Regions from separate parts of the Homo sapiens genome. Here region 2 is linked to region 1. Evidence: fine-mapped expression QTL. Tissue or cell type: whole blood. Region 1 holds a variant in brackets; the other region holds the start of a gene. All regions are shown on one strand. Distances are between the middles of the regions.

Region 1 (2,685 bases):
CCTGCTTTCTTTCCTTTTCCTCCAGGGATGGTCCCAAGAGAACTCCCTGATGTAGGGAGTGTCCTGTGCAGGACACTCTCCCACTTGCTCTCCTTCCTGGGGATCCCACCTGCAACAACGCTCAAGGTGTCCAGACTGAGGATGACCTATCAAAGTGCACACCGAGCCACAGAAGGCTGCTCTCTTAATCTTTCAATGTCCAACACAATTCAGCTGTGATATCACTGGGCCCTGGTTGTTGATTAAAAGGTAGTTTACTTTCTCTCTCTTCTGTCATAATAGGTCTTTTGAAGCGTTCCACTTCTTCTGAAGTCAATTGCGGAAACTTTTATTTGCTGGAAAATCATCCATTTCTTCTAGATTTTAAAATTATTGCCAAAAGTTACATATACTCTTCTCTTGTAAGTATTTTAATTTCTCTTGTATCTGTGGCTGTGTCTGCTTTCAAATACTTATCTCTGAGACTGAACAGAAAAACAGAGCACTTATTGGTAATCAAGAGCAGGACACACCCAAAAAGGCTTTCAAAAGCTAAAATGTGGATTTCCCAACTACACAGCATAACAAGTGAAGGAAAGAAAAATGTGGCTACTGTTGAGACCTGAATTGAGTCAAATGGAAGTAATATATGCCAACACACAGAGCAAAACTATAAGACGATGAAAATGATGAAGACAAAAGCAAGAGTTGGGGAATGGATGCATGAACCTAACATTCAAGTATTGTGGCTTCAGAAGGAAAAAAAGGGGCTATATAGCAAAAAGATAATAATTCAGTAACAGGAGAAAAATTCTGAATGGAGAAGAATGAATTCTCTGGAAATGTGAAATATTAATCTTAAATAATCTGGAAATTGAAGGGAGATATTTCAAGGGAAATTCTTACAATAGCCTAAAACTAATAGCACGAAACAATTTCAGCAACACTATTTCAGCAGGGGCAGTGGGAGGGGAAGGAGGTTAGAGACATTCCAAATGTCCATCTCAGGACTGAGAGAAGGAGGGATGAAGGGGAGGATAACAGAGGAAGGTGTTCTAGTGGTCTCATCCCATGCGGGGAGGAAGGGGAGAAAGCTGTGGCAATGTCATACCTGGTGAAATAGTTGGTATCTTGTTTCAAAGAACAATAGAGAACTATATGTTTGATTATGAGTACAAGGAAATAGAAACCATTAATAAAATTTAACAGTTTTGCTAGACACTACACATTAAAAGATGAGTAACAATTTGACCAAA[C/T]CAATGGGAAATAAGGGGAAAAAAGCAATTTAAAATAAAGTACAAATATAAAACAATAGGAAACAGAAAAGACAGGCAAGTACATTATTAAACATATAAATTATTAAATATGTGAACAAACTGAATCATCTCGTCAAAAGATACAGCTTATTCAGAGAGGGTTAAAAACCAAAAGCAGGCTGAACATAGTGGTTCACGCTTGTAATCAGCATTTTGGGAGGCTGAGGTGGGAACATTCCTTGTAGCCAGACCTACAAAACCAGCCTGGGTAACACAGTGAGACCCCATCTCTACAAAAATAAAATAAATAGCTGAGTGCGGTGGCACACACCTTTATCCCCAGCTACTCAGGATGCTGAGGCAGGAAGATCACTTGAGTCCAGGAGTTTGAGGCTGCAGTGAGCTATGATGCAGTTTCATTGCACTCCAACTTGGGTAAGAAAGTGAGACCGTGTTTCAAAAAAAGAAAAAAGAAAAGAAAAAACCTACAACATTTATACCCTTAAGGGTATAGATACACTTAAATTGGTGACAACGGATTCAAATTATAGGGATAAAAGGAGGAATACCAGGCAAATTGCAAACAAATAAAAAGCAAGATTGGCAATATTTAATATTAAATAAGATAGAATTCAAGATTATATACTAAACAGGATTAAAAAAGTGACGCATAACAACAAATTGTAAAATTTATGAAAATATTTCAAAAACCGTATGTACAAAACAACATATAAGCTAAACATATGAAGCTAAAGCTTTTAGAAATATAAGAATAGTACCAGTACCATGCTGTTTTGGTTACTGTAGCCTTTACAGTATAGTTTGAAGTCAGGTAGTGTGATGCCTCCAGCTTTGGTCTTTTGGCTTAGGATTGACTTGGCAATACAGGCTCCTTTTTGGTTCTGTATGAACTTTAAAGTAGTTTTTCCCAATTCTGTGAAGAAAGTCATTGGTAGCTTGATGGCAATGGCATTGAATCTGTAAATTACCTTGGGCAGTATGGCCATTTTCATGATATTGATTCTTCCTACCCATGAGCATGGAATGTTCTTCCATTTGTTTGTATCCTCTTTTATTTCCTTGAGCAGTGGTTTGTAGTTCTCCTTGAAGAGGTCCTTCACATCCCTTGTAAGTTGGATTCCTAGGCATTTTATTCTCTTTGAAGCAATTGTGAATGGGAGTTCACTCATGATTTGGCTCTCTGTTTGTATGTTATTGATGTATAAGAATGCTTGTGATTTTTGCACATTGATTTTGTATCCTGAGAATTTGCTGAAGTTGCCTATCAGCTTAAGGAGATTTTGGGCTGAGACGATGGGGTTTTCTAGATATAAAATCATGTCATCTGCAAACAGGGACAAGTACCAAAACAGAGACAAAGACCAATGGAACAGAACAGAGCCCTCAGAAATAACACCACACAACTAAAACCATCTGATCTTTGACAAAC
Region 2 (2,685 bases), 90 kb before region 1:
TTCAAATAGGCCAAAAGTCTACGGCTCCCCTGCTCCAGGCTGTCCCACCTCTGAGAGGCTGCACCTGCCCTCCTTCCTCCCTGGAGGGCCTTTGCCTCATCTTGATCTGGATCAATCCCCCATTATCCTTTTAAGCCCAGCTCTGGTATCTGATATCTCTTGATTCAGATGATAAAGCTATTTGTCATATTTCTGCCCTGTCTCCCCTGCCTCCCGGCACTTCTGTCTTTTCAGGGACATCAACCTTTGCCGCACTTCACAGCAATTTTCTGGAATGTAGTTGTAGCCGCAACCATCTTGCATGGTAGACTGTGAATATCTTTCATGAAAAAAGGCCATTTCTTCATCTCCTCGGTGCCCAGCAGGCTCACAATGTCTCTAATGATAATAACAACAACATGACCATAGTGTTTATTACCTAATACTTCCATCCTAGCCACCTTATATGATTTAATTCATTTAAGGCTCACGAAATTCATATCTTCCTTATTTATACAAACAGAAGAGTGAGATGCTCAAAGCTCAAGTGATTTGCCTACTGCCAGACAGCCCCTATGTGGAAGAGGTGGAATTTGAAGCCAGGCATTCTAGCTCTTAGTGTCTGTGTCTTAACCACCATGCTATACAGCATCCCTGGTAGAGATGCCTGACGGGAGGGAGAGAGGGGAGAAGCTACTTTCCTTAAGGAGCTCAGATCTCACTGGGGCCTGGACAAGGACACCTGTAACACATGTACACATGTGCACACATGTGTACACACACAGAGAGAGAACATGGGAAAACTACAAGAAGAAATACTAAGTGCTAAAATGTGTGGTTCAGAGCAAGGCTTCTCAAACTGTAATGTGTATATAAATCACCTGGGGATCTAGTTAAACTGTAGATTTGGATTTGATCTGATGGGGTGGGACCAGAGACTCATTGTTAGAACAAGTGAACTTGCATTTCTAACAAGTTCTCAGGTGATACTAATACTGCTGGTCCATGGACCACACTTTGAGCAGCAAGGATGAACTCTAAAGGTTGAGGCAGGTCAGAGAAGGGAGATTTCACTGTGGGCTGGAGAGGTCCTGGGACAGAGAGCTGAGTCTGGGCCCATGGCAGGGCTTGGTTGGCCCTCTCTGGAGCCATCCAGCTTTTGGGTCTCAGGGACCTGGGAGTGACGGGTGCATTCAGAGGCCCGTAACTTGTGTCCCAAAGCCTCCTCGATCCCCCTTAACAAGCAGCAGCACTGTGTGGGAGATCCACATGTGAATAGCCCGTGTTTGAGAAATGTCCAATCCTGATCATGTCAGGAAACATCCTGCAAATTCTGAAATCAGAGCCAAAGGGAAGTGCTGCGAGGTTTACAACCAGCTGCAGTGGTTCGATGGGAAGGATCTTTCTCCAAGTGGTTCCTCTTGAGGGGAGCATTTCTGCTGGCTCCAGGACTTTGGCCATCTATAAAGCTTGGCAATGAGAAATAAGAAAATTCTCAAGGAGGACGAGCTCTTGAGTGAGACCCAACAAGCTGCTTTTCACCAAATTGCAATGGAGCCTTTCGAAATCAATGGTAAAGTACGATTCCCCAATAATGGAAATGACCAGAAATGTAGTCTTTCTGCTAGCGAGATACGAAAATAGACAAGTCAATAGAAAGTCTAGGTTTGGCTTATTGCTGCATTTTGCACGTAATCATCACTAATACTGTCTGGAGTGCTTCAATTTGGAATTTCTGGAATGCTAATAATAGATGCTGTATTTTTAGCATATAGTCAGGTTTTTCTTAGCTTCACTATTGTTTTAATCATATTTAAATATTTTCCCTTGAAAAAATGCCAATGCTTATTAAATGTCCCCTTTTTTTAATGAATGTCTTATTCTGACACACAGGTTGGGTGATACAATGAAAACGCAAAACAGGGGCACTGAAAGGGGACCACAAAACTGAAGCCAAGCATGACAGTTTTCAAAACACAGCTTCTTTAAAATTCTTTAAGGGGATTTCTGTTATAACTGATGTGCTGGTCAGGAAACATATTCTGTATTTCATGTTGACTGAAATATGTTCATAGCTTCATAATTAGTTTGTCTTAGGTTAAACTCAGGTCTGTAATATTCAGTCAACTCTGTTGTCTTTATTTTCTCACTCAGCATTCAACAGGTGATGCATTTTTAAAATCTTCTAGAATTTGTAGCATTTGAAGTCATGGGTGGGCTTGCATTCCACAAATGAGCTCTGATTTCCTAGTCTAGAACGTTCTCTTGGGATCATCTTCCAAGTTGATCAGTCATTTCCACTCCCAGGCTTTGCTGGAAGTTGTCTATGCAGGAAAATTGGTGGCTTTATCTCCTGGCCAGAGTGTCCTTCTCATCCCACACCTGTCTGCCCAGGTCCCTGCCTGGAATTTTCAGCGCACAAAGATGAAGCGTCTGGGGCTCTGCCTCTAGGAATTTACAGTGTAATAACAGAGAAAGGTGTGAGTGCTAATGGCTATAATAATCATTGGCTATTTAGAACTTCTCAGAATGCAACATTCTGGATACATGACTGTTTAAGAGACTGAAGATGTTCAAGCAAAGTCAGCTGATCAAGCATACTCAGCACCTATTTCCAGCAGGGCACTGCACTCAGCACTGAGGAAACAGGCTTGAATAAACATAGCCTCTGGCCTCTGGCTTCTGGCACGAGGGGACAGGGGACAG

What was found. PIP is the estimated chance that this variant, and not a neighbour inherited with it, causes the effect.
Region 2: it holds the start of MARCO, and the variant in region 1 is fine-mapped to the expression of MARCO in whole blood (INTERVAL, PIP above 0.99).

Annotation. Positions count from the first base shown.
Region 1 is chr2:119,030,443-119,033,127 of GRCh38, forward strand. No RefSeq gene overlaps it. Among named protein-coding and RNA genes, the nearest start is that of MARCO, 90 kb to the left of the region's middle. The variant C/T (reference allele first, on the strand shown) is at 1,236.
Region 2 is chr2:118,940,846-118,943,530 of GRCh38, forward strand. MARCO (macrophage receptor with collagenous structure) reads left to right here and starts at 1,349. Exons shown (of 17, transcript NM_006770.4): 1 at 1,349-1,552. The coding sequence starts at 1,456.